Regions from separate parts of the Homo sapiens genome. Here regions 1 and 2 are each linked to region 3. Evidence: fine-mapped expression QTL. A gene starts in region 3. Each other region holds a variant in brackets. All regions are shown on one strand. Distances are between the middles of the regions.

Region 1 (8,268 bases), 62 kb before region 3:
AACCTGCTTGACTTTTAAGTGTGCACTCAGAGATGACCATTTTTTATAGCAGAATTCCCGAGTCTAAACAACCTTTGGCAGCTGAAGACTGAGAATGAAATTCACCAACCAGTCCAGGGAAAACCTCTTCCAAAAGCTGTAATATTTTTGTTGGATGCAGGTGTGACCCGTGGTCTTGCCGTGGGGGAAGGGAATGGCTGTGGGAACAGTGCCACCTTGTGGCCATTTTTATGAGCAGACACTACCCAGTGCTGAGCTGAGGGCTGGTTCCTGGATGGTTACACTCCTGAAGAGGGACTTTCATTTTGGGATTGGGAAGGGGCCCAGAGATACACTGAGACCAGAGCCAGTCCCCACCTGGCAGCAAGCTCAGCTGCCTGAGTCAGAAGCCCTTCTCCAAAGTTACCACACTCCTGAGGCCCAGGAAGGCTGCCAGGCTGGGCGTGTGGTTATTGGGAGGGTCATGTGGCTGTCACTAGCAGGAACGTGTCTGGATATGGGAGTGGGAGGCAGAGTCTGAGAGGAGACAGAACAAATTTCACAATGGCCATGGCTGAGCCCCAGTTGGGAAGACGGTGACCCAGGAAGTATGCAAAGTGGTGGCAGGAGGGTGGTGTCCTCTTGTCTAGAAACCCAGGAGGCCTACAAAGCAGAGAGGACTCTACCTGTCCCCTCACCCCTGACCGTAGCCTGGGGCCTAAATGAGCCCTCCTACTCTCCGCCTTGCTGCCACGCCACCATCCCTGGCACAGGGTTCCTGGGAGGACAAAACGAGATGGATGAGGCTTAACACAGCATCTGGTGCGTGGGAAGCCCTCAGACATCCCTGTGCCTGTCCCCTCCCTCTCCTACTCTGTGCACTAGACATTGGAGTGACAACAATGAACCCAGCACAGCTGCTGTCAGAACTCACAGGCTGGCTGGGCGTGATGGTGCACACCTGTAATCCCAGGACTTTGGGAGGCTGAGATGGGAGGATCGCTTCGGTCTGGGAGTTGGAGACTAGCTTAGGTAACATATGGAGATTCCGTTGTTACAAAAGATAAAAAACAATCAGCCAGGTGTGGTGGCACGCTCCTATAGGTTCAGCTACTCAGGAAGCTAAGGTAGTGATCACTTGAGCCCAGGAAGATGAGGCTGCAGTGAGCTGTGATCACACAACTGCACTCCAACCTGGGTGACGGAGTGAGACCCTGTCTCAAAAAAATAAAAAATAAGAAGGACAGGTGTGGTGGCTCATGCCTGTAATCCCAGCACTTTGGGAGGCTGAAGTGGGAAGATTATTTGGAGTCAGGAGTCCAAGACTAGCCTAGGCAACTTAACAAGACCCTGTCTCCACAAAAAAATATAAAAATTAGCCAGGCATGGTGGTGTGCCCTGTAGTCCCAGCTACTCAGGAGGCTGAGGTGGAGGATTGCTGGAGCCCAGGAGTTCAAGACTGCAGTGAGCCATGATTATGCCACTGCACTCCAGCCTAGGGGACAGAGTGAGACCCTGTCTCAAAAAAAAAAAAAAAAAAAAAGGTAAAAAGAAACACCATAAAAATAAATTTAATAATAATACATTTAATAAGATATATCCAATATCTTGTCATTTTAAAATGTAATTAAAATAAAATTCAGTAATTAAAATTCATCAACTTCCCTAAGAGCTGGAAAATTAATGAAATATTTTATATTCTTGTTTTCTATGCTGCTTGAAATTCTGTGTGTATTTTACACCCACAGCACATCTCAATTTGGACTCACCACATTTCAAGCCCTAAATAGCCACATGTGGCTAGTGGCTACTGCACGGCACAGCACAGGGCTGGTGCAAGGAAAGGCGCTCACACACATATACACAATACACACACATACACAAATACACACACACACACATATCCACACACATACAAACACACACATGCACATACACACACATGCACACACACACACAAACATATATACACACACACATATACACACCCAGAGGTCAGTAAGTTACTGGTCAGTAACTTTATAAGGGGCACAAAGTTGATGGGTGATATGGTTGGGCTCTCTGTCCCCACCCAAATCTCATCTAGAATTGTAATCCCCACGTGTGGAGGAAGGGACTTGGTAGGAGGTGATTGGATCATGGGGGCTGTTTTCCCCCTTGCCATTCTAGTGATAGTGAGTTCTCATGAGATCTAATGGTTTAAAAGCGTGTGGTAGATTCCCTTGCTCTCTGTCCTGCCACCATGTGAAGAAGGTCCTTGCTTCCTCTTCGCCTTCCGCCATGATTGTTAGTGTCATGAGGCTTCCCAGTCATGCTTCCTGTTAAGCCTGTGGAACTGTGAGTCAGTTAAACCTCTTTTCTTTATAAATTACCCCGTCTCAGGCAGTTCTTTACAGCAGTGTGAAAATGGAGTAATACAGTGGGGGAGGCTAACTTGGACTGGGAAGGTAAGAAAAGTCCTCTTGGAGGAGGTGGTGTTTAAACCTGGCTGGCTGGCTGCATGAGACTTGAAAGTGAAGCGATGGGGAAAGGCTGGAGGGTGGGAGAGGGGTTGGCCTGTCCATGCACCATCCAGGCACCTTCTGATAGAATGAGAGTGAGTGAACTATAGCTCTCAAGCCAAACTCTGCCTGCCACCTGTGTCTGTATGCCCTAAGAGCTAAGAATGGTTTTCACATTTTCTTTTAGACAGGGTCTTGTTCCAGTGCCCAGGTGGGAGTGTAGTGGCATGATCTCGGTTCACTGCAGCCTTGATCTCTGGGGCTCATTCGATCCTCCTACCTCAGCCTCCTCACCTCAGCAGCCTCACCACCTCCCTCATCTCCACTCAACCTCTCCACTCCAGCCACGCTGACCGCTTTAATGCCCTGGTGATCACCCTCCCCTTCTCCTCCAGGGCTTTCCCTGGCTGCCCCCTCCACTGCAAAGTCCTTTCCTATCTCCTCTCTCCCTGTGGCCAACTCCTCCACTTCAGAGACCAGCCTTGACTTCACATCCTCTCCTGCTTCCCAGTTACCTCCAAAAGGGCCTCTGCCAAGCCATCCTCTCTGGTTTCTCTCTGAAAATCCAGGGTTGGCACAGTGTGAAGAGTGCACAGGGGCCTAGAGGCCTGGGCTCTGGAATGCTCCCGTTTCCAGACTCAGCTGCCTCCCCTGCCTCTTCCCCAGGGCTGCCAGTAAAGTGCCTTTTCCCTGCAGGAAAAAGAGCTGCCCCAGTTGGGCCTGGAAAAAGGGCAGGCATTCCCTCACTTGGCTGGCCAGGGGGGCTGGAAGTCTTTGACAGCCCTGCGGTCAGTCCCAGGGCCAAGTCCTTGTCCCCTCCTGGCAAATTTATGCGCACCTGAACTCTGCAGGATGCCCAGGAGGGGGCGCCAAAGTGCTGCCAAAAAAGAACAGTTTGGGGCATATGAATCAGATGGCCTCGTGGGAGTGCTTAGTGAGGGCTGGCTCTGAGTTCTTTTTACCCCAGCCCCTGCCCAGGGCCAGGCACTGTGTGTGGAATGGAGGAAAGGACACCATGCAAGAACTGACAAGGTCCTGCACATCTCCTATGCTGGCATTTCTTACGATCACAATGACTTTGGTGTTCCAGGCCCAGAGGCTGGGAGCTGGCAGGAAGCTTGACCATTGTGAAGAGCTAGTGTGCCTAAAGTGGCCTACAGATTTGTTGAGGGAGGCTAGGTGGGGTCAGGAAGGCAGGACCCCTTGAGCCAGTTGCCTCTGGCAGCAAACAGTCTCATTATTGCGTAATTAGTATTTTCTATGTTGACTTGACATGGACGTGGTTGGGAAGCACTATCCAATATGGAAGCCACTAGCTACATGTGACCACAGTACTTACGTTTTAATTAAGATTAAATAAGCAGGCTGGGGGGTGGTAGCTCATACCTATAATCCCAGCACTTTGGGAGGCTGAGGTGGGCAGATCTCTTGACCCCAGGAGTCTGAGACCAGGCTGGGCAACTTGTTGAAACCTGTCTCTACCAAAATACTTAGCCGGGCATGGTGGTGCATACCTATAGTCCTAGCTACTTGGGAGGCTGAGGTGGGAGAATCACCTGAGCCCAGGAAGTTGAGGCTACGATGAGCCAAGATCACGCCACTGCACTCCAGCCTGGGTGACAGAGCAAGACCCTGTCTCAAATAAATAAACAAATTAAGATAAAATAAAATTTAAAATCCAGTTCTTTACTTCATTAGCCACATTTCAAGTACTCGATGGCCACATGTGGCCAGTGGCTCTCATGTCAGCACAGAAATAAACATTTCCATCATTGAAAGTTCTGTTGGACAGTGCCACCCTAGAACTTGCTCTGATCTCTTGTGGGTAGGGTGTGCTTTAGAATTTCAGAGAGTTCACTGTTAGCATGCTGCCTCCCATGGATATGGTTGTTACAAGGTTATGAGAAAGGCAGTCAGACCCACCTAGGATTAACCCCTGATTTTGCTGGTTACAAGCAAAGTGTCCTCTATGCAAGGGCTCTGCAGGGCTGACACGGGACTTGAGCATCCGCAGACTTTGGTATTCAAGGGGATCAGGCAACCAAACCCCCACAGTTAGCAAGAGACAACTGGACTACTTTTGTGGCTTCAGAGAAGTCACTTAATCTCTTTCAATCTCTGTTTTCTCATCTCTAAACTGGGGATAATATCACCCTGCCGCCACAGTTATTATTAGATGAGCTAAGACAGATAAATCACAAAACGCAGTGCCTAGGACACAGTTTTGCGGCCTTACCGCCCCAGCCGAGTGTGCCTTTCTGCGTGCACTCACCCACAAGCCCTCATCCCCTGGCTATACTGTGTCCAGACCTGTGTCGGGTTCCACATCTCGTTCAAAGGCAGCACCGGGCTTGATTCTTGCACCGGGCTTGATTCTTGCCTAGAAGGAGATTGCAATCTAGGTCAGAAGGCAAGATAAGGCCCATGAA[G/A]CAACCTGAAAACAATTCTTAGGCAACACACAGGGCAGTGTGTCATCCCGTGAGCCAGAGTCTGATGGGAAAGTAGTGTGGGGTGGGAGGCTCTTCTAAGTCCTCGTAGAGAAAGTGGGTGAGATTAGAACTGGTCTTGAAACAGCGTAGAGTTTGGACCGGCAGAGCCAATGAGAGAGAAGTGGCAGCAGGGAATGGTGTGAGGGCAGAGGAACAGCGTGAGCAAAGAAATGCTCAGAGGTGGGTAAGGGAGGGGCCAGAGCTAACACAGTATGGGGCAGCTTGGCCGAGGTGCTCAGGAAGGGGACACACTTCCTGAGAAGAGAATTTGCTAAGAAGATACTCAGATCTTGGAAGCCAGGCTGAGTTGCTTAAGTTTAATGAGACAGGTGGTCATCAGGCAGGCGGGGCCTTGAGCATGGAAACTGGCAAGGCCTGGGGAGGATTGCACTGACAGCAGAAGTCGGAGGTCTGTGAGGGAGATCCTGCAGTCAGGGTGACGTCAGCGAGAAGTGACACCAGCGGCCTTCCGGGGCAGTGCATGGTACCATTTACAGAGCGCTGTTAACATAGCCTGGGCTCAAATTGCTGGGTCCTAACACAGTAACCAAAAACTGGACTCCATTGGTCTACACAACAAGTCAACATCAAATTGGGAAGGAGCAGTGGGTAGGCACCAAGAAGAAACAGAGCAGAGGAAATGCCTGTCACAGTGTGTCAAGATCTGAGCCCCAGCCCCTTAATCAGTTAAGAAAAAGAACAGGGGCCGGGTGCGGTGGCTCGCGCCTATAATCCCAGCACTTTGAGAGGCCAAGGCGGGCAGATCACGATGTCAGGAGTTCAAGACCAGCCTGGCCAACACAGTGAAACCCTGTCTGTACTAAAAATACAAAAAATTAGCTGGGCCTGTAATCCCAGCTACTTGGGAGGCTGAGGGAGGAGAATCACTTGAACCTGGGAGGCGGAGGTTGCAGTGAGCCAAGATCGCGTCACTGCACTCCAGCCTGGGTGACAGTGCGAGACTCTGTGTCAAAAAAAAAAAAAAAGAAAAAAGAAAAAGAACAGGTACAAGGAGGAGAAGAAGGGGGTGTCTAGAAAGAGGACTGGGTGTCTGAGAAACAGGGCTGGGTGTCACATCACACACATACACAGGCACACACAGTCACATTCACATGCCTGTACACATAAACACATATAAGGACACACATATAAGCCCCCCAACTTACTCTTCATGCTAATCATACCCAGAGACCCTTAAGGATACATGCAAATGCATATGTACGGGCACACATCAATACGTATGTGTATATACACGTGTTCTTCCTCAGCCCAGCCTCTCCTTTTAGGCCTGGAGCTGGGGCTGACATTGGGTTTACATCAATCAAAGCCACTAGGAAACGTCTATCCTGCCTGGGCCCAGAGTCCATTTCTGACAGAGGCTTCTCCAGGCTTTACTTGTAAACGCTATTTATTTTGGAAAGCAACTTCTCTGTTTTCAAATAAAACGTTGGGACATGCAGTATTGGATTTCCCTGATCTGACATTGACCTAGAAAAATGTGCTGGCAGGAACAGAAAATGCGATGCCCCACTGTGCTGGCAGGCACAAGAGTTTCCCTCCTCTTGGCTTTGATTGCAAAGGTTAAGATGCAAGTGAGAGAGCGCAGTTCCCCCTCCCTGCCTGAGCAGCACTCTCCCTGCAGAGCTGGAGGGAACTGGGGGCCATGTTTAGGGGCTTCCTGCAGGTTTTGGTGCTTGTGGTCTTAGGGGCATGCTTCTGGGTGGGGAGCTTATCACAGAGGGGCAGCTTGTCACAGGGCTGGTGGCCGAGGCCAGCATGTAGAGAGCAAACAGCTCCAGGATGTGCAAAATATGAATAGGGCCCAGCTATGGGGGTCCCCACGGTTGTCATCAGTGAAAAGGGCAAAGCAACTTGAGCTCTGGGTGAGGTTTGAAGCCAGTTCCTGTCCCTTGGGGAAGAGGTTTCCTGGAGGCAGACCTGCCAGGTCCAGCTTCAGGTGAAGGTCATGGCCTGCTGCCATCTGCAGCGGCCTGGGCACCAGTTGCAACGGTTAGGGGCAGAAGCTGGGAGCAAGGGCTGAGGCAGGAGCCCCACATCATGGTGGGAACCCAGACACCTGTGGTCTGCTTGCGGGGGTGGGCCCTGGTCTAATTAGCAAAGGAGGCTCAAAAAGCAATACACAATTCATTGCCCCAGCTGAGCCACAGAATCTCTCAGAGTTCCTCAGCTGCTCCAGTGACTTAATTCTGTGCCTGTTAATTCTGTTCCTATTCCACCCACATCCCTTATGGCCTCTCTGAGGATGAAATGAGATCAGAAATGTAACATGCTCAGCCAGGGCCGGATGCATAATAGGTAGGCTCGGTAAACGTGAGAGCAAATCCCAGCTTCACCACTCACTAGCTGTGGCGCCTTGGGCGAGCTCCTCCTTGGTGCCTTAATTTCCTCATCTGTAGAATGCAGATAATAACAAAATGTACGTCATAGAACTGTTGGGGATTAAATGAGTAAATATTTGTAAAGCACTTTGAACAGTGCCTGGCACTTAGTAAGCGTGATAGCTGTTTGCTATAATATTAAATTTACTCTTTTTGTGTGTGACAGGGTCTCACCCCGTGCAATGGTGTGATCATAGCTCACTACAGCCTCTACCTCCCAGGCTCAAGCGATCCTTCTACCTCAGCCTCCCAGATAGCTGGGACTAGAGGTGCACCCCACCACACCCGGCTAATTTTTTATTTTTTATTTTTTGTAGAGACTGGGAGTCTCATTATGTTGCCTAGGCTGGCCTCGAACTCCTGGGTTCAAACAGTCCTCCCACCGTGGTTTCCCGAAGGTCTGAGATTATAAGAGTGAGTCACTGTACCCAGCCTTAAATAGTATTCCTAATGGTTATTCATGTATTTATTCATGAATTTATTCAACACGTCTTTCTTGAGGGCCCACTATGAACCAGGCACTGTTCCAGTCACTGGGGCTATAGCAGGGAACAAGAGACACTAGCCCTGTGGTAGGTATAATGATCCTCCCTGCCCCCAAAGACGTCCATGCCCTAATCCCTGCAATCCTGACTATGTGATGTTACGTGGCAAGAGAGACTTAAGGTTGCAGGTGGAATTAAGGTGCTCATCAGCTGACTGGGAGAGAGGGAGGGTGCCTTGGATTATCCAGGTGGGCCTAACGTAATCACAAGGGTTCTTAGAAGAGGGAGGCAGGAGAGTCAGAGAAGGAGGTGCGAGGATGGACACGGGGTTCTAAGTGATGTGATTCCTGGCTTCTTCCAAGATGGAGGAAGAGGCCACGACCCAAGGAAAGCAAGCGGCCTGTAGAAGCTGGAG
Region 2 (8,000 bases), 150 kb after region 3:
GGTATTCCACAAAGAAAGACTGAGGGTGTTCATACTCGAAGCTGTCCATTTAGCTGCCTGGCAACCGGTCTTATGAAGAAACTTGGCCTCAGTTTGATTTGGGGATTTTTTTTAAATGTTGTCCTATTTATTATAAAGGATGCAGAGGAGCAGCCAGATGGAAAAGAGGCATGGGGTGTGGTATGGGAGAAGGGGCTCAGAGCTCCCATGCCCTCTCCGGGTGCGGGCATGCCACCCTACGGGAGCCGGCATGGTTTGAAGGTCTTAGCCACATCCCCGGGAGCCCCCCATTGCTGGAGCTTGTCTCTGAGGCAGCAAAGGGCCCTCCTACCTTATCTCAGTGCCACTTCTTTAAGGAAGGTGACAGAAGCCGTTTCCCAAGTTTGAGCCACCCTGGGCTATTTCCATCGTTACTATTTTCTGACTTGGACAGTGGTGGGCACTTGGCTTTTGTCTACTTAGCTCTAGTTTACAGGAGAAAAATTTTTCTGTATGTGTGTGCCTCTTTTTACAGGCAAATTTTACTGCAAGCCTCACTTCATTCACTGTAAAACCAATAGCAAACAACGGAAGAGACGGGCAGAGTTGAAGCAACAAAGAGAGGTATGTTTGTCTCAAACATGCTGGTGAAACGGGGAAGGCCCCTTGATAAGGGTTTCCAGTGATCCTCAAAGTTAGGCCAGCTTTGCTGGCCCTAGAGGGATTGAGATGACTCACAGATAAAGAAGAAAGCCTCTGCTTCCTGGTGTGGAGGGTTCTTTTGCTTCAGTCTGTTCCACAGCCTCTGGGGTGTGTCCCATTCCAGATGAGCTCCCAGGACAGTAGCCATGCTGGCTTCTCATAAGAAGCCTGGAAGAGCTTGCCCATGTGGCAGGGATGGGGTGATATGCTTAGCCACACAAAAGCCACATGGCCCTCTGTACCTGGAACCCACCTGGCCACAAGGTGCTGTTTGCAAGAATGCCTGGTATAGGACCGACCCTTCTACATTTTCCAAGTCCTCTCCCAGGCTCTCGAAGTCAACAAAGTGACCAGCCCACTGAATTCATAGATGGTTTGTGGAAGCATCTCTTCTGGCATCTCTTAGCAAATATCTTCTCTCGGGCTTGATTAATCATCTACCACTAGCAACAACCCATAACTTAAAACTTTTTTCTAATTAGCCAAATATATAGGTTCAGTGTAAAAACATGGGAAGGAAAGAATATAAAGAAACAAAGTTAAATCACCTGTAACCACTCTACCCTGAGAAAACCGCAGTTGACATTTTGTAACATCCCTTTCCAGGCTTTTTTTCTATGTGAATGTATTTTAACCAAAGTGGAATCCTATGCCTAGAGTTTTATATTCTTCCTTTTCTTCACTAACTGTATATCAAGAATAGTTTCCCATGACATTAAATTTTTTTATGTTGGAGCATAATTTTTAATGCCTTTGGAAGATTCTAGTCTATAAATGGTCAATAATTTACTTCACCACTTCTGTATTACTGGATCTTTACGTCGTTGGAATTTTTTATCTTACAAATGTTTTTACAGTGTATGCTAGTATGCATGTTGTTATCCATATTTCAAATTATTTACTTGATGTATATCATTAGGAGTGAGATTGCCGATCAAAAGGCATGCATATTTTTGAAGGCTCGTGACTCCTATGGTCAGTTGGCCCCTAGAAAAGTGCCCGTGTTCAGCACCGGCTTCAGCATGAGTCGGGGGGCTGAGATTATTGTGGGGGCTGGTTGCAGGGTCTGGCGAGTTCAGTTTGTATTGGCTGTTGGCTTTGTTGAAGTAGTCCTCTGGAAGACTTACAGACAAATGCCCTCATTTCCATCTCTTTCTCAGGAGGAGGCAACATGGCAAGAGCAGGAAGCCCCTCGGAGAGACACTCCCACCGAAAGTTCTTGCGCAGTGGCCGCCATTGGCACCCTGGAAGGCAGCCCCCCAGGTATCTCCACCTCCTTCTTTAGGAAGGTGCTGGGCTGGCCCCTCAGGCTGCCGAGGGACCTGTGTAACTGGATGCAGGGACTCCTGCAAGCTGCTGGCCTCCATATCAGGGACAATGCTTACAACTACTGCTACATGTACGAGCTCCTGAGCCTGGGGCTGCCACTCCTCTGGGCGTTCTCTGAGGTCCTGGCAGCCATGTACAGGGAATCTGAGGGCTCCCTCGAGAGCATCTGCAACTGGGTGCTCAGGTGCTTCCCAGTCAAGCTCCGCTGACATGGCTGGCTGCCCCAAAGTGCCTTCACATTTCCAGGGAGGCTTCAGATGGCAGTGCGTTTGCAGTTTGCTCAGGCTCTGGCCAGGAAGCCTAGCATTCTCTAAGCAATTAGCTCAAAGCCAAAGAATTTCACATGGGCCACCTCCGCCTGGCCTTATCAGGGTGAACATCTACTCACGGTGCTAGGGCCAGGGATGATATGAAGGATCTTTTCTATAGCTTTGTGAGCCATACTTCTGGGTTTACATTTCAATTTTTTTAATTTTAATTAGCCCAGAGAAAGCATTTTTTTCTATGAGTGTCAATTTTTCTAAACATGGGTTTGAAGCTTATAACCAGTTTTATAAACCCCTTGAACACTGCAGTGAGTTATCAAAGCCACTGCCTGCAAAGTGGATGATTTAAGATTTTACACGCATGAAAATGAGTGTGCCATCTCCTGACCAGTGCCTTTTGACTTAGGTACCCAGATGCCACTTGTCAGCAGCAGGATACTTTTTACAACACGAAAGCATAATTATTTTAGAAGAAGAGAGTAGAAGGGCAGAATAGAATTCAACTTACAGAAGCACGGAGCAGTGTGTGGTTGGCTGTTATCTGTCCCCCTGGGAGGAGGACTGTTTTGCTCCCTTGTTTTGATGTTAAACAGTAGCTTAAAGGCTTTCCCCCCCATACCAACTCACAGCCAAATGACAAAGAACCGTGGGGTTTCAACAGATTCTACAAACATGCATTTTCCCTTCCCACTAATGGGCACTGCAGGGAAAGCCCATTGGCATTTGACCATGGAGCTGATGCAGTGCCAAAGATGAGCTCTTTCAACTGATGGCATTTTAGCCCCTGTGGCTCCCAGCGGATCCCCCAGCCCGGGCTGCAGGCTGAGCCAAGGCTGTGCAGGGTCCATATTGGTCAGGCCAAGTGGAGTGGAAGACTCTGTCCACTTATGTGGTGTCCTTTGGGACTGAGGGGGTTTGTTAGCACATCAGGCTATTGCTGGGAAGCGTGGCCTGCCCAGTGAGCATTGCCTGTGGACATCCTGACTGCTTAGCTGCTCCGCTGCCACACATATGTGGTCAAAACAGAAACCAATTTCACACTGCCCTGGGAAAGGAATGGGTCTGACCTCCAGGGGAAGCTCTACCATATCTTGACTGGCAGGGAAGGCTGGGAGTGGAAGCTATTTATGGACTGATCCAAAGGACATATGCATGAGTAAGGGTAAAAATGAGCATGCAGGTCCACCTGTGTTCTTACTCTGGGTATCTAGAAGAGTCCTCAGCTCTCCCTACTCCACGCTGCCTAGACATACACAGCTGCAGGGTCTGGCTGAACAATCAAGGGGCCGCCAGAGAAAGGCCATCTACGGTGCGCAGTGTATCTGGAGTTGCTGGGCCCAAGATAGCTCTGTGGAGTTATCACTAGAGATGCCTCTGGATTAACTAAGAGGTGTGCCTGGGTGTGGGTGAGGAGTCAGAACCTTTGAGAGCTTTGAGATGACAGTTTCTATGGGGCGGGAAGAAGGAGGTGCATTTCTACAAACACTTCCCTGAAATCCTTGGGAAAAACAGAGGCATGGCCGTGGCCAACTCTGTGGGAACTGGCGCCTCTGTCCTTGTTGGCACTGTTCTCAGTCCGATGACTTGCATTGTGTTTTCTCCAATTTTTGCTGGGATTTTAATGTTCAGCATGGTGGGAGGAACCCTTGATTCCTTTTGTTTGAGTATAGAAAGTAAATTTTTGAGGTCATGATGTGAACGGCCATGTTATTGTGATTATCTTCAGCTCAGGATAGGCTGAGATGCTTTGTGGAGTGTTCCATGAAGCCCGAGTCGGAATCTCTGACTGTCGTGTACAGCCATAAGGAGACTGGTTTGAATTACTGTGGCGAGACAGGGCGTGCCTGTCAGAAATCTGAGATGTTTGTACGCTCTGAGATGTTGAACCTTTCTGGTGGGCAGCACCGACACCCAGGGGTGGACCCCCGAGGATGAATGCCTCTAGGCCTCCGCAACATATTCAAGAATGAATGGGAGACGCTAGAGTAAAATGGGGGCAGAGAGGATATCAGGGAGCAAGATGCAAACTGTGTGCATCCACTCTCGTAAACAAGTAGCTGGTCACAACCAGAAAGGTTCATCTCTCCTAAGCAAACAGCGACTCTTTCAGAGGAAGTTTCCCTCTTTCAATCGTGGCCTTATTTTCAACTCCGGTGCCTTCTCGTGATGTTAATCATTTCCTTTTTTCCCCACACTAAGCTCTCTTTTCTATCTTTCTCTCTCTTTCCAATCTTACGCCATGGCCATCAGTTCATTTCAGCCTTCCAGTGCTACACCCACTTCTTGGCTGACACACTTCTGCTCTAAGGTGACTGGTTTTCTTGCCAATTTTCAAAGAGTGGTACTAACCCCCAACCCGCTTTCCGCACCCCGTCCTCTCCGCCAGCAGTACTGGTTGCACTAACTGTGAGTGTCTTGCATACTGATGGACTCATTTGGTGGCATGGTTGGCTAACAGCATGGCGGGGGGTGTTCAGCTTGAGACCCATGCCTGTGTTCATTTCCCATGGAGCTGGCAGCCTGGTCTACCCCAAGTGCATGCCCCGCCTCTCCTCTCTCCCTTGGGTCTGCCTGCGTGCATGCTTCTCCAGTTGCGTCTGCGAAGCTACCTACTTTCTTGGGAGGGTCGACCTTGATCATGAAACAATACCATGAGGGGGCCTCTGTCACCTTTGAAAAGAACACTTTTTGAGCAGCCTCAAAAAGCTCATACATACCAGC[G/A]CCTTCTTAAATTGGCTCTAATGTAAAGATTGTTAATGTCATTTATCAAAACCATAGGTGATTATTTGGAGGGATTTAAAAAACTTAATTACTCTCAGGCCTCATCCCAAGCTTGACACATGCTCTGTAGGTTGAACACATAATCACAAATATTCTAGCAAATGCTGCCTTGGTTGCAGCCTGCACTGTAGACCCAAGGGTTTTGCTGTGGCTCTTCTTATCTCCCTTGGCTCATAAAGCCCCAGATGATGCCAGAGCTTCAATTAGAGCCATCATCATCCCAGGCAGGGATATCTTTGAGAAATGACTCAGTTCAGCCCCAGGCCCCTGTGACTCTGCTTAAAGCACACATTTCTGCTGACTCTTGTACCTGGGGCAGCAGGATAATCACCAACACACTCTTAACGAGAAACAACACACCAAGCACCGTGGAGCTGTCCTAGGCAACACTCGCGGTCTCAGGCTGCGGTGGGCGTCTGTCCTGCATGTGGCCCAGACCACCCTGACCCCCGGGCCTGCCTGCCTGGCCCTGCATGCTGCACGCTCACTGTATTTGTGCAGATCCTGGCCAGTACAAAGTCGTTGCTCTTGTCTTATCTTCTCTTACAGAGTCTCCCTCCCTTTATAGAATGTCAACCAAAGAGTGCCCTCCTCCCCTCTCAGCCTCCTCTTTAGCTAGCCTCCCCATCTCATCACAACGCATGTCTGTGACCTTTGGTAATCATTTACAGTGCCACACGGAACCCTGTATTTTGCACACAGCAAAACAAACAATGTTTAGCTTTATTTATGGTATTTGATGCTGTAAATGGAAATAAATATTGTTCTTTATAAAGCTCATTGTTTCCTCTCTTCTTTGCCGTGGAAGCTTCTAAAACCTCACACACAGGGATTGGTGTAGGGGGTTCATTTTCCCTAAACTGCTGGCGGGACTTGCACTTGAGGTAACACAGGACTCTCTGGGGCTGCGCTGGGCACTCTGAAAGGAAATATTACCCCTGGGTAATATTTGGAAACTGTCACCAATGCTCCTGGGCTAGGCTTTGGGATCTCTTTCTTGAACACTCATTGTACTTTGCTGTTCTAGATGCTGGGCATAGTGGGTGAGGGTCAGTGTCCCCTCAGCGATTAGAAGCAGACTGTATTGATGGCTACCTTTACCCGTTTCCCCCGCACACCCAAGCGTGGCTCTACAGGAGAGCTTTCCCCATGAACCTTACACTAATTTAGGTTCCTATTCAGCAAAGGTTGGTCTGGAACACTTCACGCTGGTGCACAGCTGAGTGGCAAGTGGAAGGTAAGTAGGAAGGACTGGGCATCAATATTAGGATGGCAATGAAGTTGGCAGTGTGCTCATCAGATGGAGAGCCACTGCCATCCTAAGAGACCTCTCCTGTCCCAAAGGCTCAGGGTATTCAGTATCTATGGTGTGAGGCCCTGCCCTAGCACCACCCGAAGTATAGTATTCATGGCAGGCCCCAGGCAACTCCAGGCTGTGTTTAAGGGAAAGATTTGGAGCCTCACTTGGCTATCCTGGGCAGTGCCAAAGTCATCTGGTCCTCAGCCTCCCCTGGGTGGGATGCCTGCCATTTCCTGGCTGGGCGTAGCTGGGCGTAGCTGGGCTTCTGACAGTGGTATGAAAAGTCACCTGTGAACCTCATGAGGTCCCTGGCACCTCCAAATGGGTGTTCCTGAGGCTCTGGTCTCTGATGCCTGGATCTACCTTCAGAGCTGCCTCAGGTCATGACCAAGGGTTCTGTACTCTTACCTGGGTGATATATTCCCACTTCCATTTAAGGAGGGATGTTAGGGACTGTAAGTCAGGTGCTGGGCTGTGCAAGTGACTCATTCCTTTATGCATTCATTTATTCAGCAAATGTTTGTCCTAGGCCTTATTCTAAGCCCTAGGTACAGCAGGGAACCATGCGAAGTCCCCACACCTCCCTGCACCTTAGAGATGTGGCTCAGTATTGCTGTACTAGATGAGATCTGTTATATTTAACTGTGCATGTGCTCATTTGTTTGCTCAACTCTGTGATATTTCCTGAGCATCTACTATGTACTAGGAATACAGCAGGGAGTAAAGCAGACAAAAATCGTCACTTTATTGTCAAAGCGTGACACCCCAAGTGGTGCTTCACCAACAAAGGAGTCCATGATCACAACATTTGAGGAATATTTTGTACTGATCTTGCCAGTCCTCCCCCGTCCTGGAGACTAGCAAGATTCATTAGCATGTCAAGTCTCTGAGGCATCCTTGTAGGGAAGTTTAATCAACTTTGTGAAAGTCAGCTGTCCCATACTTATGTGAACATTTTGTTTTTGTTTTGGTTTGCTTTTTTTGAATATTGCATTCTACATACATAGTTTTGGTAGACTAGTGTTTAATTCAGAGATATTGGATTAAAGACTTAGAATTTTAAAAGGAAAACCATATAATTAAATATTAAATGGAATTAAGTATTGATTAGATATGGGGTGATAACCTTCTAAGCATAAATCCTCTAATAGGAAGAACACCACACAGGGAAAACATGACACAAATCTGATTATATACATTTTTAAAACTTAATGTAGAGTAATAAAATATTAAATAGACCATTAGACTAGGGAAAAATATGAACTAAATGTAATAACAAAGAAGTTCATTGCATGGTATTTTCAAGGTTCATTTAAAACAGATGTTCCTGGGCACCTCTCATAGTGTAGATGATCAGTTAATATTTGTTGATTAAAGAGTCAATGATAAATAGGCAAAGGCTATGAACAGGCAATTTACCCTTAAGCAAATTTTAAAAGTAAACACTAAAAAGAAAAAGCAAGCATTTACAAAAGTATTCCTACTTGGTTTTTAAAGGAAGTAAATTAATTATGGTGCACATGGGCCAGGTGCGGTAGCTCACACCTGTAATCCCAGCACTTTGGGAGGCTGAGGCGGGCAGATCACTTGAGGTCAGGAGTTCGTGACCAGCCTGACCAACACGACAAAACCCTGTCTCTACT
Region 3 (8,268 bases):
TCCCCAGTCTATCTGGGGCTAAAGCTAGACTACTTACATGACCCTATGTTTCTTCCCCTCTCTTCTGCACACCCACTCCATCGCTGTTTGCTCTGGTTGCTACATCTGGCTGGGATGTCACCTCCTGCCTGCAGCCACAGCTCTTTGCTCTCCAGCACTGACTTTCTCACCATTGCTGGCAACGTGCACACATTCACCAAAGTGCTGGGGTGCCTCCGAGGGCATTACTGACTTCAGCAGGTCCCAGACAGGTGCCATTTTTCTCTAAACCACCTCTGGAAAAGCCACTTAAAGCGAGGTAGGCCTGATGAGTTTTTAGTGACCTTGAAAACTTTTAGATGTTTTATCCGTGAACAAGCGGTTTGTTCTGAGGACTATAAAGATGATGAAGAGCTTGAACAAGGCCCCAGGGATCTTGCTTCTCACATACTGCTGAGTCTGTCTGTGGGAGATACAAATGTTTCCACTTCCTGGCTTAGAAAGTCCTCCAAGGACAGCTCCCAAGGTGCCCGGGGCCAATCAGCCCTTTCTCATCATTTAACCAGGTCACTGGACTCTGTCTAGATACCAGCCTTCCTCTTCCTTCCGAAAGACCAAAGCACTTTGATAGCAGCTTGGGGAGGAAGCCAGTGAGAACCACACTCACTGTTTTGCCCTTCTCTGGAATCTATGGCCTTCAGGAAGAGATCCAGAGCCCGGTGCAACTGTCTTCTCTGCCATTCAAATATCTTGAGGGGCACCCTGGCTTCATTACAGAAAATCTCCATCAGGAGTCCACTTAGTTCAACTCTGACCTCTCTTCAAGCATATTGCTAGGCTGGAAATAAAAGGAAGCCAGAACTGCCACCCCCACAGTCCTCTGAACACAATCAGGTGGATAAACGATGATGCCCGCGAGCACCAGCTGGGTTCTTTCAGGGGGAGGCATGCATAGTGCTGTGGAGGCCATTGCTTCCGTCTGAGATGAAGCTATATTTAGGGATGAATCTGGGCCTTCCTTCTCTTCCTCCCTCTCGTGCTAAGTGGCCATCTGCATCTCCCAGACAACCTCCACAAGCAGCATCCTGGAAAAGTGGCCTGGGGAAGAGGTGGCTATTAAATATAGACTATTGAGCCTGCTTCATAAAGATATTGAGTTAGTTTGCCTGTCATGCTAAGAGTGAGAAAGGGACATTGCATGCCTGGAACACACTTATTCACTCACTCTGTGACCATCAGAAGCATCCTTCTATCTCTGGGCCTCCATTTCTTTCCTTTTCTTTTCTTTCTTTTTTTTTTTTTTTTTTTGTTGTTGTTGTTGAGATGGAGTTTTGCTCTTGTCGCACAGGCTGGAGTGCAGTGGTGCGATCTCGGCTCACTGCAACTTCCACCTCCTGGATTCAAGTGATTCTCCTGCCTCAGCCTCCTGAGTAGCTGGGATTACAGATGCACACCACAATGCCCAGCTAATTTTTGTATTTTTAGTAGAGATGGGGTTTCACCATGTTGGCCAGGCTGGTCTCAAACTCCTAGCCTCAGGTGATCCACCTGCTTCGGCCTCCCAAACTGTTGGGATTATAGGCATGAGCCACTGTACCCGGCCTCTTTTTCTTTTCTTTATCTTCCTTTCTTCCTTATTCTTTCTACCCTCCCTCCTTCCCTCCTTCTCTCCCTCCCTCCCTCCCTTCCTTCTTCTTTTTTCTCTCTCTCTCTTTCTTTTTTCTATTTTTGAGACAGAGTCTTGCTCTGTCGCCCAGGTTGGAGTGCAGTGGTGTGATCTCGGTTCACTGTAACCTCCACCTCCTGGGTTCAAGAATTCTCTGGCCTCAGCCTCCCAAGTAACTGGGATTACAGGCGTGTGCCACCACACCCAGCTAATTTTTGTATTTTTGGTAGAGACGGAGTTTCACCATGTTGGCCATGCTGGTCTTGAACTCCTGACCTCAAGTGATCCACCCACCTCAGCTTTCCAAAGTGCTGGGATTACAGGCATGAGCCACCATGCCTGGCCTCTTCTTTTCTTTCATCTGCTAGGTAAGGGATTCGATAAATATTCCTCTAAAGTTTGCCCTAACTTTAGATCTTTCATTTGAAGAGCTGAGCTGTATAACTCCTAGACATAGTCACAGCCCAGCAGGACATCCCATGGTGACTGCTTAGTCCAGAGGAAGGTGAGTTGTGACATCCTTAACCCATTCCTCTTCTCTCTCCAGGAAGATGGTCAGCAAGGGTGGCTTGTGTGAGGTGGTGAGTGGCTCTGGCCACTGGCTCAAGAAGTCCCCAGGTTTATCTCCCTCCATGCAGTTAACCCTTCTCAGTTCCCAGGTTGCCCTGCGTCCAAGGAAAAGCTCACCTCTCAGCCCTCAGATGCACCCACCTAGCAAGAGTCTTTCTTATCTGAGCCCCCTGAGTTAAAAAGATTGGGAGTAGGGTAGGGGAGAGGAGGCAGAGGTTCTGGGAATGCATTGGTAAGTTCTAATTTTTAAGTTGCTTGAACTTCTGTGCTGAGCAATGCTATCTTTGTTAAACTTGGTTGGCCCACAGTGCTCCTGAAATAGCATTAAGCTTGTTTTAATCTGAAGGGAGAATGTTGTGCTATTGGTAAGGTGATAAAACTGTAAAAAAAAAAAAAAGAGTAATAAAGAATACAGCTCCCAAAGCACTGTGGTCTTCTTCTTCTTCTTCCTCTTCTTCCTTTTTTTTTTTTTTTTGAGATGGAGTCTCGCTGTACGAGCAATTCTCCTGCCTCAGCCCCCTGAGTAGCTGGGATTATAGGCATGTGCCATGATGCCCAGATGATTTTTTGTGTTTTTTAGTAGAAACGGGGTTTCACCATATTGGCCAGGCTGGTCTTGAACTCCTGACCTCAGGTGATCTGCCCACCTCAGCCTCCCAAGTGCTGGGATTACAGGCCTGAGCCACCATGTCTGGACAGCATTGTGTACTTCTGATTATTCATCTGTTGCATTATAAGTTACATGAGTGCAGGAACCACATTTGGTTCGGAGTAGGGTTTGTTAAATGAATGAATGACTCTGTCTCCATCTCTATCCACCACATGGGTGTCTCAGGTCCAGGCCAATAGCAAGAGGCTTTATGTCCAGTGTAGTTAAGGTGGGGACAGATGTAACACTGCTTCCTGAAGCTCCTCACTGCCTTGGGTTTCCTGTATCACTCTTCTAAATAAGGTAGGGCCAGGCCAGTGGAGTCTCCTCTCCCTTACAGTGCCCTGGCCTGAGCTTGACAGACTGTTTGGATGGACTGGGAGTGGGTCAGGCCTAGAGCAGCTCTTTCAGGGTTAGACTTGACCTGTCAAGTACCCTAGAGGCATGGGCAGTGCTGTAGAGGCCCCAGCACATAGTGTTTAGGCATGTAGATTCTGGAACCAGATCTGGCTCAAATCCGGACTCTGATACTTACTAACCATGTGATGTTGACCAGTTGCTTTACCTCACTGGTCTCAGTTTCCACATCTGTGAAATGGGATGATGATACAATACATACCTGTCAAGCCAGGCTTAGATGAGATCACGTGTGAAGGGCACTCCCCAGGCTGGCATCACAGGCAGATTTCCATCAGAGTGGAGTGCTGGCCCTCTGAGAGTACAAGCTGACTGGGCCTTGCAAACTGGGTAGGAACAGCTTTTGCTGGAAAGTTCATCTACAGGAAGTTGATTGAATTCTGAAGAGAGAGCTAAGAGAGCTGCCAGGTAGGACAATACCTGGTAAACACCAAAGGGCTGAGAGTAGGATCACATGGCAAGAAGTAGAGTAGAGAAAAAATAATAATAATCTGCAGGTTTGGGGAGGCAAACTGTTCTGTTTGCACTTGTCTGGCAAGGGAACATGGTGTCTCCTGGAGGTGGTCTTGTGCTGGGGAAATTCCAGCAGCCTGGAGCCACAATACTGTTTCTCACTGCTCAAGCCTGCCTGTTTTCCTCTGCCTAGGTAGCTCAGTTCCAAGAACACTTATTGATGCTTACACCGGGCCAAGCCCTGTGATGGGCCCTGGGTTCCAGAGGTGAGTCAGACATGGTTCCTGCCCATGGAGATCCCCATTTCATGATAACTGCTACAAGAGCCGTTTAAACACAAGGTGTTTTACAGTAGTTATAGTCTACAGAGTGCTTCTGATTGCTCACTAGGCCCCACTCCATTCACACTGTGTTGTCTGTGAATGTTGCTCTCTGGAGCTGTGGGGGGTAAGGGTAACCCGGGAAGGTGGGCAGAGCAGAGATTAAGATAGGGATATGACAGCCAAAGGTAGAGGGTGTTTAGGTGATCTGACCAAGGTAACACAGGTAGTCTGCACCACCGCCCCCTTCCCACTAGCTTTAGCCAAGCAAGGCCAGGTGAGGGGAAGATCCTATTAGCTAGCAAGGAGGTTTGCGGAAGCTCAGGGTGGTCAAGGAGCCGAGCAAAGAGGGAGGTCCACAGGACGTACACAGTCGGTACTAGAAGTGCCATGCTGCTCCCCCATGTCCAAAAGGGGATGCCGTGTCTTGCTTTCCAGCCGCCTAGACCAAGAAGCGTGAGGCCCAGGCCCTCGCCGCTCCCTTGATACCCGCTTACCAACACCGGGGGTTTCATCTCGCAGCGCCACCACGCCCCACTCCCAGCAGCCCTCCCCTGGTCTCCGCCCTGTGCGGGTCAGGGTGGGAGCGCCCGGCCACTCCCTGCGTTCTGGGCCGGGCTACAGCCCACGTGCGCCGGCGGCAGCGGCGGTGACAGCCGGCCCCACGGGGGCGGGGCGGGCTCCGTGCTGTCCTGTCATTGGCCGCGCCGCTGTCGGGGGCGTTCCCCAGCCCGGTCCACCGCGCGGCGCAGAACCGCAGGCGCTCGGCTGGCTAAGCCTGCGCCGGGCCGCCTCGCTCGCTCCCAGCTCTGTCAGTGGCCCGCGGGGCCCGATCGCTGCGCCCGCGGCCAGGGCCGAGGCAGGCCTGACCCGGGGCCGGGCAGCCCGCGCGACTTTCGGTAAGGCGGGGGCGGCGCTGGCCTCAGGGTGGGGAGGGCGGGCGGGCGCGGGTGGGGACCGTGCCAGCCTCGGCTGGACTCTGCGCCGTGTCCAACGCCCGGGAGGGTCAGGTGCGGCCGCAGCATCCCCCGCCTCAAACCCACCCGGCGGGGCGCACAGTGAGCAGGTGGCGCTGCGACGAAGCCCGGGGCGGCCCTGGCCGGCCTCTGAACCAATTAGAACGCAATAAAAGCCTCCCACCGGCACGCCGAACTACCTCTTACTCCGCTCCGCAACACCCAAACCCTGCAGTTCCAAGCCTAGAAAATCGCAAGCGCCAAAACGGGGTGGGAGTGACGCGCCTGCAGTGCTGCCTGTCACCTGGCAGAAGACCATCCCCAAACTTCCCAGGATTGGGGCTCCGAGCCTTGCACGCCCCGTTCCAGCTCTTCACTGGGCGCCCTTTTCCCCCTCCCCTGTCCCCTCCCTCTTTAGTAACAGGAAGTTAAGTTGGGCCAAATGTCAGTGGCCTGGCTGGCCGCGGGCTGGAGCCCAGTCGGGATGGGGTCGTGGCAGTGGTCCGAGGGGCCGCGGCACTGTCCGCTCTGCATCGCGTCTCCCGCATCCCCAGTAGCCCGCTCTCGCTCCAGGCCCAGGAGCACCCCCGCAGGGTGTCCGCGGCACCCACCCTGTAGGTGCCTGGCTGGCCCCGGGGAGAGGTGGGATCTTGCCCACAGCGTCTAAGCCGCTGCCGGGCCAGACGGGGCAGGTGGGGTAAATTGTATTCACCGCCAGCCTCACTGGCAGAGCTGGGAACGGCCTTTACTGGATGGGGATGAGGGGATGTGGAAACCAGAGTAGTGTGCCTCCTTCCACATTGTTTATTCTGAGGCCTGGGTTCTTAAAGCGGAAAGAGCTTTTATTTGGAAGCCTGTAGGGCCCCGCCAGGCCTACAGCAGTGTGCCGGCTCTCTTGCTGTGATTGTCGCCTGTTAACTACAGTCTACAATGATTTTGGTGAAGGATGAAGTCACCAGCCAGGCCCCTTGTGGGCTGGTCCCACGGGAGAAAAGCCAGAGGCGAATTGGCCCTCCAGTGTTTGTGCCAGGTTCCCTGACACCTGCACTTACTCTGTCCTGCTCCCCCTCCCCAGTGGCAGTCGACCCAACAAGTGGGCCTCCGGTCTCCAGGGTAGTCCTGTGCAATGCCCTGGAGACTCTAATACCGTAAGAACTCACTTTCTTCATGCAGAGAGAAGACGGACTTATTAAGTGCCTACTGGGCAACAGGTCCTGTCTTGTGGCACTTTTGCAGCCAATTTCATGGTTATTCCAAAAACGCTGAGAGTTTTGCCCTCCCCATTTTAGAGATGGGGAAAGAGGCTCAGGTATGGTAGGTGCCCAAGGTCACACAACAAGTGTCTGAGCCAGGTCCTGGCCCTGTCAGTGTGAGTCCAGTGCTCTTGTTTCATGGCTGTGGGAAGTGGTGTGCTGTGTGCAGGACCATGGCCCCACAGCGTGCTGACTAGAGCCTTCCAGCCTCTGAAAAGATGCTCTCCACCAGGATTTCAGGGGATGCTTCTTTGGCAAAACAGTTGAAGTGACCCAGGTTAGCCAAGTTGTTCAACCTGCAAACCCCTTATCCTCCCCCTAGTCAAGAGTAGTGGATAGTGTTGGCCAGATTGCTATGGGGAGGGATTGGGTGCTATTTTGGAAGGAAGCCTGCTTCTACCATTGACCTGGCCTCACCTCTGAGAAGCTGGCTTCTGGTATAGTCTAGGAGGACTGTGTTAGCTGAAATAACCTCTACCTTAGGACTGATTCTAGTTTCGTGGGGCTTTTGGGGGTGGGGGGGCAGGTGTTGGGGTGTAGTGTTATGGTTGTGGGGTAATTGAAATCCAGTTTGAACATACCTCTATAAAAACATGACATCACTTTTATCTCCAGCCCCTTCTTCCTTTAGGCCTAGGGCTCTGGCTTTCTGCTCATCCCCTCTTTCAAAAGAAAATCATGATAAGTCATGATTTTCATGACTTATTTTCATGATGTCATGAAAATCATGAAAACTGATACCAATCCATTATACTTTAGTATAAATCAGCTTTTAAGAACTATGCCTGGTTGTGGCTGTGGCCATTGGAGGCCCATTCCCAGGCTGCAAGGAGCAGCCATATGATCCCAGATTCCTTCTCTGCCTATAATTGGGGTATGTTTCTGTTCTCTCCACCCACACCTGGGTTTGCCTCCCAGCCATGGGCCTGCCCCCTTTGCTTCCCACTGCTGAAGTATAGAGGTCTTGTCTTCTTGGTGGAAGCCTTGGCTCTGGCAGGACGGGACGTGGTAAGGGTAAAAGAATAACTTGGTTAAACATTGCTGATCCTAGATGTCCTCTGAGGGCTAACAGTCTCTATTCTTTAAAGAGTCAGAGAAGAGAATACTGTTCATCATGCTGAGATGTTTCATTCTTTACATCATTCTATTGTTTCATTCTGCCTCTAAAGAAGTGGGGTTAACTGCATTTTACAGGTGAGGAAGCTGAGACCCAGAAAGGTTACAACTTGGCCGGGTGTGGTGGCTCATGCCTGTAAAACCAGCACTTTGGAGGCTGAGGTAGGAGGATCATGTGAGGCCAGGAGTTCAAGGCCACCTTGGGCAACGTAGCAAGACTGCTGTCTTTAGTAACAACAACAACAAAAAAGGTTACAACTTGCCTGCATCACACAGCATGTATGAGTGCAGTTTGAGTGTGGAGAATTAAATGCTATGGGAAGCAGGAAAAGCCTGTGGCTGTCTCTGCACTCTGGAGGCTTGGCAGGCACAGCTCCTCTGCTGCGCAGTCATCTCCCTTATCCGCGGTTTCACCTTTCGAGGTTTCGGTTACAGTCAGCCATGGTCTGAAAATATTATAGTATTTTGAGAGAGACGGAGACCACATTTACATCGCTTTTATTATAGTATATTGTTATAATTGTTCTATTTTATCATTAATGTTGTAATCTCTTAAGGTACCTCATTTGTAAAGAAAACTTAATCGCTCCTGTATGTATAGAAAAAAACACAGCATATATAGGGTTTGGTACTATCCAAGGTTTCAGGCATTTACTGGGGGTCTTGGGATGTATCTCCCTGAGATGAGGGGGGGCTACAGTACTTACCCTTTCTCACCCTATATTGTAATTATTTATGAACATGTCTTCTCACCTCACTATGAAATGGCATTTAAAACACTCAGAAACTTGGCAGATTTATTTTCTGGTTTTGCAAATCCTCTGTGCTCTTTGCTCTGTATTTCCTTAGCTTTTATGCGAGCTATGTCCATGAGGGTATCTACCAGGAT

Which allele goes with the higher level. Positions count from the first base shown, and alleles are read on the strand shown. Sizes are in standard deviations (SD) of each study's normalised expression. Not every link is listed here.
As copies of G replace A in region 1, the expression in unexposed skin of the gene that starts at base 4,817 in region 3 goes up (moderate effect, 0.43 SD a copy in GTEx).

The links.
Region 1: its variant is fine-mapped to the expression of MICAL2 in unexposed skin (GTEx, PIP above 0.99).
Region 2: its variant is fine-mapped to the expression of MICAL2 in whole blood (TOPMed, PIP 0.97).

The regions. Positions count from the first base shown.
Region 1 is chr11:12,044,209-12,052,476 of GRCh38, forward strand. The region is part of intron 1 of LINC02547 (long intergenic non-protein coding RNA 2547); the gene reads left to right. Among named protein-coding and RNA genes, the nearest start is that of LINC02547, 17 kb to the left of the region's middle. The variant G/A (reference allele first, on the strand shown) is at 4,910.
Region 2 is chr11:12,257,954-12,265,953 of GRCh38, forward strand. It overlaps MICAL2 (microtubule associated monooxygenase, calponin and LIM domain containing 2), which reads left to right. Exons shown (of 28, transcript NM_001282663.2): 25 at 515-603; 26 at 1,842-1,944; 27 at 4,527-4,584; 28 at 5,607-5,832. The coding sequence ends at 4,567. Among named protein-coding and RNA genes, the nearest start is that of MIR6124, 98 kb to the left of the region's middle. The variant G/A (reference allele first, on the strand shown) is at 4,998.
Region 3 is chr11:12,105,774-12,114,041 of GRCh38, forward strand. It overlaps MICAL2 (microtubule associated monooxygenase, calponin and LIM domain containing 2), which reads left to right and starts at 4,817. Exons shown (of 28, transcript NM_001282663.2): 1 at 4,817-4,953. RefSeq lists a silencer at 4,511-5,180 and an enhancer at 4,723-5,426.